2 separate regions of the Homo sapiens genome follow, and region 2 is linked to region 1. Evidence: fine-mapped expression QTL. A gene starts in region 1. The other region holds a variant in brackets. All regions are shown on one strand. Distances are between the middles of the regions. Region 1 holds the start of NR2F2-AS1 (NR2F2 antisense RNA 1). Region 2 overlaps NR2F2-AS1 (NR2F2 antisense RNA 1).

The links. PIP is the estimated chance that this variant, and not a neighbour inherited with it, causes the effect.
Region 2: its variant is the best candidate, but not a certain one, in a credible set for the expression of NR2F2-AS1 in nasal epithelium (TOPMed, PIP 0.86).

What each region holds. Positions count from the first base shown.
Region 1 is chr15:96,324,823-96,330,205 of GRCh38, forward strand. NR2F2-AS1 (NR2F2 antisense RNA 1) reads right to left here and starts at 2,296. Exons shown (of 5, transcript NR_125738.1): 1 at 2,134-2,296. It also overlaps a transcript of NR2F2 not described here.
Region 2 is chr15:96,288,552-96,293,934 of GRCh38, forward strand. NR2F2-AS1 (NR2F2 antisense RNA 1) reads right to left here. Exons shown (of 5, transcript NR_125738.1): 2 at 2,079-2,232. Among named protein-coding and RNA genes, the nearest start is that of NR2F2-AS1, 36 kb to the right of the region's middle. The variant G/A (reference allele first, on the strand shown) is at 2,331.

The sequences.
Region 1 (5,383 bases):
GTTCACCTCCTCCCCAGAGGAGCCTCACCATCCATCCACTCAGTATAACTGATGAGACAAACCGCAAGGAAAAACTTCTGTAGCCCATATTTATGGTATTAATGAATAGTTAAAAAAGATTTACACTTCTTATGATCAATATTCTGAGTTATTTTGCTCAAAGTATATAATTACAGTGTCTTCAGAGTTTTCATCATTGTTTGAGGTGGCAAAACCATTTGTAATTTTCATTAGCCAGTAAACATGTAATTAACATTCAGCACTGTGTTTAACTTAATTCCTGTTTAAGACAAGGACAAGAAGCAGCCGAAGAGCGTTAGTTCCATTTGTCAAGTCTGACATACATCTTACCATAACAGTTTCCTAAAATAAAAGATCCGTGTTTCCCCATTATTCTTCTCTTAAAACAAAACAAAACAAAAATCCATTAGTTAAGACAGTATTAAACTGTGAGAGGCAGCATAGTTTATATTCAATTTTCACTAGTTACCGTATTCTTGCTTCCTTTATTCGTTTTGGGGAGTAGAGAAAGGGAGGGGGTGAATGAAGCATTCATTATCTGAAGGCATGGAATGGGGAACCCCTCCCCCCAAAAGAAATAGATTTCCTCCTCAGGAAAGTTCTAGAATAAGGACCGGAAAGGGGGGAGGCAGAAATCCACAGGGGAGAGGGGGAAAAATCACTTGGGGAGACTTGAGTTAAAAGTAGAAAATGAGGATTCCAAAGGATTCCTAGGAAAAATGTTGCCCTCTTGTCTCAAGTTCTATCTTTGATCCAGGACGAGGGAAGCCTGTCTGCCAGTCTGCGAGGCTGATGCTTTTTCCCCCTCCTCTTCCACCTCTGTTTTTTCCCAACTTGCTTTAGGATTAGCCTCCATCTCTCTCGACCCCAAACAGTGGAATTTGGCTGTGCCTTGGGTCGTCTTGCTTTGCAATATCGCCTATAGTTGTTGGCGGTTTTCTGCTGAGGCTGAGCCGTTTGCTCCAGCCTCCGACTAAACTCATTAAGTTGGGAGATTTTTTTCAATTGGACGGGTGTTTTTAAAGTCTCGTCTTTCCAGCCCCAAACAAGGTGTAACAACGCACTCTTCCTTCTAAGGAATGAGATGAGAGACAAGGATCACTCCAGACATCTCCTACCTACGGTTTGGGGTTTTTTTTCTTAAAGGCGAGGCTTGCATTCCTCAGCAGCTATGTACAAAGCTCCCTGAAACCTTGTCTCTCTAAAGTTAGTGTGCAGGGTTTTCCAAGGCTGAGAGAGCCTAATACATGGGGAAGCACTTCCTTGAGGTGGAAGATCTCTCCCTTCACCTTTCCTCTTTTTCCCTGCAGGCTAGTGCCTACTTTTTATCAGTTTGCACAATCGCTTAGATAAACACCGAGGAGGAGATTCTCTTTAATTATCAAAGACACATCTTTTCAGGGGGCCAACAAAGCATTTATTTCACCCGCCAAACTAAAGGAGAGTTATTCCAGTTTAGGAGGAAGATGCAAGCGGTTTGGGACCTTGAACAAGGCAAATATGGTTTTGGTATGTTTACTTACAGTATTTTTTCTCTCTCTCTTTCCTTTCTCACTTTTCTGCTTGTGCTGTGTGGGGTTGGGGATGACTTGGGGCTTTTCAAAATATCGGTTTGCTAACGTGTATGAAATGCCGAGGACTGTGGTTTAAGGGGTTCGGGGAAGGGGGGATCAGAGTCAATTCAATGCATTGCCATATTTTATTACATGTGTGTGGTAGGAGAGATGGTGGAGGGGGAGGGGGGAAAATACAATTGCAAAGCTGCCAAAATATGATTAAACCGAAGCGTTAAGACTGCGGAGCCTCCTATCTCCTCGTCCTGTCTCCTCAAACTCATTTCCTTCCACAGAGCAAACTAAAAACCAGTCCTATAAAGCGTGGTTTTGCAAGCAGCAGATGACTCGGTTTTCTAGCAAAGGAGCTGCTAGGCTCGCACTAAGTATCAGAATTTACTGTTCGCTTTGCCTCTGCGCTTCATTTTGCAACCTTGTGCAACTGACAGCCAGGCAGGCAGGGAGGGAGAAAAGCCTAGCCCGGCGCCCTCGGCCACGGTTCGGGTAGGCGAGCGCTCGGTTAAGCTAGGAGGAGAATCGCGACGAGAAGGGTACTCACCATCGGGCGGGGCGGTGGAGCTGGCGTGCGGATTTCAGGCAAACGTTTACCTTTTTGCTGTCTATTGCAACCGCGCCGGGCTGACTTAAGAAGCAATTCTGTGCTCTGTCCAGAACATTCAAGGAGCGGTTCCTCATTTTTAAAAAGCCAGCGAGAGAGACGACAGAGACAGAGAGAAAGAAAAAGAGAGGAGGGGGTGAGGGGGACGCACATAAACCCAGTTCAAAAAAAAAAAAAAATCACCTCTTCGCCAGTGACTCGGGAAACGCAGAGGTGGCGAGATCCGAGTACGGTCCAACCAAGCCAGAGCCAATTAATTTTAAATCCTGAAGAATTATTCAGATTAAAATGTACAGAAGTTTCGTTCTCCTATGCCTACGTGAGTCCAAAGTCGTTTCCCTTTAAGAGCTCCTTTTCTTTTAAAGTTGAATTTTAGGCAGCGAGGACTCTTACACTAGGGGGCAGACAGATACTGTACTTGCTCTAATCTTAAGCAATTTTTTCCCTCCCAGCATATGCTCTGATTTAGCACTGTAAATTTTTCAGAGGACCTAACTCTGACAGCCCCTGGTGATTTTCAAAGTACCACAAGCCAGTGGTTAAAAATTGCATTGACTTGGAAGTTCAGAGGGACACAATGGAAGCCCCTTTCCCTATTCATGGAGCTCCAGTGTGGTGGAAGAGAAAAACACACACGGACTAGATTGAGGGAAAGGAGGAATTCAATGAATCCTGGAGGACGGAACTGGTTTCTACTGAGTTCAGAGTTAAACTCGGCATTTGCTGGGGTCTGTATTCATATTGTGATTCAATCTGTAAAGAAATACAGCCCATCAGGCCACTTTCTGCAAGAAAATTATATTCCTGGGTGTTGAGTTTCTTTCTTTTCTTTTTTAGATTAGGGCAAATGTTGTCCCAACTTTCTCTAGGCAAATTAAAGCTTGCCATTCTTCTCATTATAATAAATTTACATCTGCAAAAAAAGACTGAGTTGGATTTTTAAAAAACAACAATAATATATTGATTTTATCTTCTCAGAGCTTTTTAACCTTAGACGCACAGCAAGTGAGCATCTCTGGAGAAGACATTTAAAAATATTTTTGCCCTTTTTTCTTCTCAGTCTGTAGTCTTGTCTCTTCTTCTATGCATTAAAATTAAGTATAATTCATACGGTGATTTTTTTTCTCCCTTGTAACAGCATTTCATAACTGAATGAGTCCTAAAATACAGAGTGAAACACCCCTGACTTTATGGCAGCCCTGTGATCATTTGCCTAGCAGGCTCCAATTTGTTAAGATATGGTTGGGAAATTATTCCATTTTAATCTAAGGCCATCACGCATACTTCAAATTCCAAAAATCTCTAAGTGGACTGGGGAAGCTCTTCCTCCTCGATATTGTTCCTTCCCATGTTTGTAAAAGGTAATCTGCTATGGAAGTCTCATTCAGGAGGTGAGATGAAGATTTCCCTATAATCAATTATTTTCATCCTCTATTGAGATGGGAATGCCCATTAGATTTCCTATCTCAACCCCAGTCTCATCACATCTCAGCTGAGCTTGTCCCGAATCTGCTGACATTTGTAACATTAGCAATTCCTGAATCATAGAGGTTGGAAGGGAAAACAACAACAACTACCAAAAACCTTCTCCTGTGTAATGATTTCTTTTCCATCCTTCTTATCCTCTTTAGGAGAAAGTTATATTGTGTCTCTAATTAACCTGAAATTCTCAGCTTGGCTTCATTCTGTGGCAATCTTATTACACACCAGGTTTATGATAGTTCAGTGTCCACTATAGGTTTGCTGGGCTTTTTTTTTTTTTTTTAACAACTTTCAAATAAACCGAGAACCTGCAGCTTTAGTGAAATACGTGATTTCATCGGAGAAAGAGTGAGGGCTGAGGTTTCGGGAATGAAGCTTAAAGAAGATTTTTCCTTTCCTAAAAACCAGCCCCTATCTGCCCAGATCTTTAGTCCTTACCTCATATTCTGCCTATGTGTGTAAAGAGAATTGAATGTAAAATGTGATCTATGCATGTCAATTATATGTATGGTTTATTTTTAAAATATCTTTACCCTGTCAATTTTTTTTTCAGCTACCAAGGATGTTTTCTGTGGTCATCAATTTACTCTTCATATGTGTTCATTTCTTTCCTGGAGCTCAGCGTCTTTTGTGTAAAATATTTTAATTGTTCACAAACCTGGTTGGTTTACCGGCATGAGGTTTTTTCTTGGTGCAAAGTGTGTACAAAGGAGACACAATTTTCTTGTATAAATGTGGAATAATGATAATTCACTAACTGGTCATAAACAACAAGTTTACTGCGTTGGAATATAGTGTGTTCTGAGAGCAATTCTACATGTTTGATGTTTAAAACCAGACACCCTGGAATTCAAAGACACAACTGTCTCAATTATTTTAGCACATGGAGCAGAATGGCAATAGGCTATGAAGTTGTTCTTTTTGCAGTGACTTCTTGAGGTAGAATATGGCTTGGGTTTGGTTCTTGTGACCTGTACTAGTATTATTTCCCATTTGGGGCAGAATCTCTGGGTGCGTTTTAATGACTATATGAATGCTTAAAAGGAACTTGAGGAACAATGAAGTCCGTACTCAACTGTTCTATGACCTAGAAGCATAGTCGGTGAAGTCTTTGTCTGTGTACATTGACAAATGTGCATCTGATACATGTGCGCTTACATGTGTGTACAGAGGGTGTGCACAGGGGAGGCTGGGCGGCTGCCTCCTCCTGTCCATCAGTGGGCAGAGGTCTTTCCCCTCTCACCATGACTGGGTGTGTGGCAGGATGTTGGCTGGAGAGTTAGCTAAAACCAGCGAGAGAGGGTAAAGTTGAGGAAAATTGATTCTAATTGCATCATGACAATCAGATGAAGTCTATTTCTGCTTCTCAGCATCCGAGATGCTTTATTTGGGCAATTAAAATGTCAGGCCACATACCTGTGAAATGTTAACCCTACAAGGAATAAACAGAAACAGAACGGCCTTTATCCTCTGAAAAGAATATATGTCATATATATATGTCACCAAACCGAACAAGTGATCAGAGTTAATTAAGAGAAGGGTTTGCCATCACCCGGATCTGGCCAACTCTTTCGTTTGGAAAATGCCTACAAGCTCAGTTCGTGGCACCTTCCCACCCTCACTCCCTATCCCTCTGCAAAGAAACCAGGGAACTTTTCTTTGGCATTGTGGGTACTAAGATGCGCCAGGAGTCCCGGGTGGTGCGCGA
Region 2 (5,383 bases), 36 kb before region 1:
GTTTTACATCCATCTATCACTGTGCCTTATGTGCTTGTGCTTAACACAGGTGTTTAACGAAAATGCATTTCTGCAGATGTGAACAAAGCCTCTCATTATGCTGTCCACTCACCTAGCAAAGCTTCTCTCTTTATTACATAGTCAATTACACTGCCAGGCACAACCTTTGATTCTTGGTGATGTATGCCATGCATTTTTTTCATTCTAACATGAAAAATCCAAAAGGTAGTTGTTAGCCATGCAACCAAATACAAGTGTTCACAATGGTATGGTATCATATTAATGAAAACATTGAAACTAAATTATGCATTATACTTGCTTACTTTACCGACCTCAGTTTTCCAGGTGTAGACAACACTCTGAAGAAACTGCATCAGTATTTAAATTATTAGAGATACAGGCCAGGTGCGGTGGCTCATGCTGGGAATCCTAGCACTTTGGGAGGCCCAGGCAGGTGGACCACTTGAGGTCAGGAATTCAAGATGACCAGCCTAGCCAGCATAGTGAAATCTCCATCTCTACTAAAAATACAAAAATTAGCTGGGCATGATGGCGTGTGCCTGTAGTCCCAGATACTCTGGAGGCTGAGGAAGGAGAATGGCTTGATCCTGGGAGGCAGAGGTTGCAGTAAGCCAAGATCGTGCCACTACACTCCAGCCTGGGTGACAGAGCGAGACTCTGTCTCAAAAAAAAAAAAAAAAAATTATTAGAAAAAGGAAAGTCCTCTCTCTGAGGTATAAAGAACATTCTGGAAGCCAAAACAGAAAGGGAAATTTTAGTTTAAATCTTAAACCAGCAATAAACCTAAAATTTTCAAAGTTTCCTGAAAAAAAGATAAAATTAAAATATATACAGCAAAATGTTGAATAATGTTAATATATGTGTTTTTCTGGAGAGAGAGAGAAAGAGAAACCATAGATTCCATTAATATCTTCAGCTATGTTCTCACACAATATAAGTTAAGAAAGTTAAGGAACACTAACCTAGGACCCAGTCCAAAAGAAAATTCTCACCTAAGTCTGGACAAAGTCCTTTCAAAGTCCTTTGCAACTACATGTAAGACTTGTTCCCTTGAACTCCTTAAATTAGCAGAATAATATCAATTAGATTCTTTTGGTCAAAAATCATTCATATAGGGTCTAATCCCCATCCAGAGAAAAAAAAACCTTAAAACATTTAAGTGTTGAAGGCTACCTGTCATTTTATTAACTGGTTGCAAATACGCTTTTTTAGGTTTGGCCGTTTTCTCAGTCTAAGCTTTCCTATTTTCTCATGTGGTTATTATAAGAGAAGAGCTTCTCTGATTTTTGTTTGCTGGTGTGGGTTTTTTTTTTTTTTTTTGGTTGTTAATGTTTGTTTTTTACTTATAACCACATATTATGAGGAATGATAAGGTATTATAAATTAATAGTGTAAGCTCTGTAATCAATTAGGATGGGTTGAAATCTCACACTAGACTCCAAATAAACCAATTAGTCTCCCCAGGCCTCTCTTTTTTAATCTATAAAATGGAGATATAATAATATCCACCACACAAAGTCTGTGTACAAAATAAATGAGACAATGCCTGTAAAACATGTGGCATTGTGCTTGTCATATATTAAGTAGACAATAAATATTACCTATTAGTATGACTACGTATATTTTGCCTATGTATTTATAAGCATTAAGAGTGCATATCCTGTTTCCTTATTATCACATAGTTCTCATACATTTTTATGGGCCCTTGATGCACACTGCAAATGAATTTCCAAAAGGATTTTGCTAATATATCCTATCAGCAATATGACAGTGTCAGTTTTACCACTCCTTGGTTAAAAATGGGAATTACTATTAACCAGGAATAAAAGAAAAAGACCAAAAAAAACAAAAAAAGCGGGGAAAAAAAGGAAGGCAAGAAAGAAAAGATAATTTAATTTTTTTTAAATGTGTACATGTAAGCTTTTGCGTTTCTATATCTAGGAAAAGAAATCTGTGAATGTTCAGATTTCCATTCGACATCAGCCAGTTTCTTTCCAAACACTTTCTCAAAGTGTCGTACTTCATCTTTCAAAAAGCCTCATCCTACAGTCACACACCTTGTAGTTTTCCGGCTGAGGGACTCACAGAAGGGAACCGTGGTTTCCTGGTTCTCTGCCAGATGTCCAGTGGTCCCACGAAGGCCAGAGATTCAACTGCCTGCCACTCTTGTGAAGATGTTGCATACAGGACGATTCCCAGAGGAACTGGGACCTGGTGAGGCCAACACACAGATATTTTCTTGTAAGGTAGGATAAGGCAGAGTGACACAGCCCGCATCTGACCACAAGTCATGGGAGGTGTAACCCAAG[G/A]TGGCTTATCACCTGAGCTCTGAAAGGGATAATCTGGGAGGAACAGTTGGTTTGTGCAGCTTTTCAAGAGACTTAAATAATACCTGGTTTTGTGGGAAGAGAAGGAACAAAAGAAAAGAAAGCAAAACCCTGGGCACGATGGCTCACACCTGGAATCCCAGCACTTTGGGAGGCCAGGGCAGGCAGATCACGAGGTCAGGAGTTCAAGATCAGCCCAGCCAACATGGTGAAACCCCGTCCCTACTAAAAAAACAAAACATTAGCCAGGCGTGGTGTCGGGTGCCTGTAACCCCAGCTACTTGGGAGGATGAGGCAGGAGAATTGCTTTAACTGGGGAGGCGGAAGGTTGCAATGAGCCGAGATTGCACCACTGCGCTCCAGCCTGGATGACAGAGCAAGACTCCCTCTGTCTAAAAAAAAAAAAAAAAAAAAAAGAAGAAGAAGAAGAAAAGAAAAAGAAAGCAAGAAAACACTTTAGTTGTGGGTACTGGATTTACTGCATGTCAGAGTGGGGAGATTGACAGTGTTGACTTGGAAATATTCTAATTCTAGGCAACCAAATGGAGGCTTTTCCTCACCTTCTCCACACCAATGTCTGGCTGGCCCCCTCTTTCTTTTAAAACAGTTCCTGGGGAGGCCCCAAAATTCATCTGATGTCTGTATGAGCACTGTTCTAATAAGAAAACAGTGACCTCCCTGTTTTTTGTTTTTTTTTACTTTTTTATTTTCTGGTTTTTGTTTTTTGTTTTTTTGAGATGGAGTTTCCCTCTGTTGCCCAAGCTGGAGTTCAGTGGCATGATCTCAGCTCACTGCAACCTCCGCGTCTTGGGTGCAGGCAATTCTGCCTGAGCCTCCCGAGTAGCTGGGACTACAGGCGCGCACCACCACCACGCCCGGCTAATTTTTTGTATTTTTAGTAGAGATGGGGTTTCACCATGTTGGCCAGGATGGTCTCGATCTCTTGACCTCGTGATCCACCCGCCTCAGCCTCCCAAAGCCTCCCTGCTTATTCACACAAATCCCTGAATAAGAACTCTCTTCCAGGTGGACATGATTTATAGGGCTGATTCAACGGCTTCTCCTACCTTAATTACCATGAAGGACTCACATTAAAATGCTTAGAAAAGATGAGAGTTGGGCTCTTTTGACTTTTGCTGGTGGTGTGGATTACCTGCTATATTCCTGAATCTGGCGCTTGCTAAAGAGGTTGAGAGGATTTGCACTCCAAGATGGGGACCACTGGCATGACCTTTTTCCTTGGCTCTGTGGTCAAGCCACCCCCTGCTCCACTTACTACCTGAGTGACACCAGGCAATCATTTCACCTCTCTAGACCTCTGCCACCTAATTCAGTACGTGGAGATAGTCACACCTGCCTTGCAGAGTTATTGTGAGGGAAGCACCAGCTTCTGGTACATGGGAGATTTTATTTATACATGAACACATATATGCTTGCATACACACAGATGTGTACCGCAGTTTTTGAAAATCATCTCCATTTTTATAGCTCACAAGGTGATTTTTGAAAAGTCAATCAAGAAAAGAAGAAAAAAACCATTTTCCTCTCCAACAAGAAAAAGCAATTAAACGTCAAATATTAACTGTTCCCTGGGAGAAAATTTTTTTAATGGGTTAAAGGCTTGGCCATTATAGACCTCCAATATGTAATTTCTAAGAAAGGACCAGGTAATATATTTTTTTAAATTAAGTGGAAGACAAAATGCTGGAACCAGTGAATCCATTCAGAAAGCGCTTTTTTATCCATTTTCCGTAGCTTCCCAATTGCATCATGCCTTTTAAGAGGCCCAATTTGTTTAACAGCATTTTATTTTAAACCTTCACTTGTGAAAAGCATTGATTTATGATAGGGCTGATTAAAGCAATGGTGTCTTAAGCAATAATGATTTCAATTATAGGACTTTCACCAACGTGCATTATTCTGATTTGCTCTCCATTCTTGCCACATTTTTATTCACAAAGAAAGGGGTAGGGATAGGTGATGTAATTTTGAAAAGTCCCTGGACAAATTTAATATCAGAAAGGAATGTATAGACAGATGGACTGATGTACCTTTTTTGATTATGTGAATGTATTGTATTTTAATAAGCTCTGACAAACTCTTCAACAGCTCCCTGATGAGCTCCTACTTGGTATCATTAGGGTTATTTAGTGCTTAGATTCGGCTCAATTCCCACTGGAGCCACACTGAGGTTGTAGAAATGTGCACACTACAGATTCACTCGAAGCCTAGCACTTAGAGTCTTATCTTTTTGTGAAGCTGGAGAAAACAATTAAGCTCACACTTAGATCTTTAACTTGTTCAAAGTCAACAGCCATAGAAAGGCACACTAGGCTGGGTGTGGTGGCTCACCCCTGTAATCCCAGCACTTTGGGAGGCCAAGACACGTAGATCACTTGAGGTCAAGAGTTGGAGACAAGCCTGGCCACTGTGGTGAAACCCTGTATCTACTAAAAATACACAACTTAGGTGGATGTGATGGTGGGCACCTGTAATCCCAGCTACTCGGGAGGTTGAGGCATGAGAATCGCTTCAACCCGGGAGGTGGAGGTTGCAGTGAGCTCACCCCCCTGCATGTAGAGACATGGCAAAACCCTGTCTCTACAACAGATACAAATATTAGATGGGGATGGTGGTGCTAGTTCCAGTTACACAGGAGGCTGAGGTGGAAGGATTGCTTGAGCCTCAGGAGATAGAATCTGCAGTGAGCTATGATCTCACCACTGCACTTTACCCTGAGCGACAGAGTGAGACACTGTCTCAAAAAAAAAAAAAAGAAAAAAAGAAAAAATGTGAAGTCAGCCTGGAGTCATATGCAACGGAATTCAGGGTATCCATCTAAATCTAATTCAGAATGCAACCTAACATGGTGGGGGTGGGGGGTGGCGTTGGGAGGCGCAGGGGGTAATCTATCACATTTATTAATAATGGCAACCTGTGAAGGAGCCCTGCCTAACGGGGGCTGCTATTCCTAATAGTCACTATGCACAGCTGTTGACCAAACAGTGCCACAACTTCGGAATTCAGAAATTCAT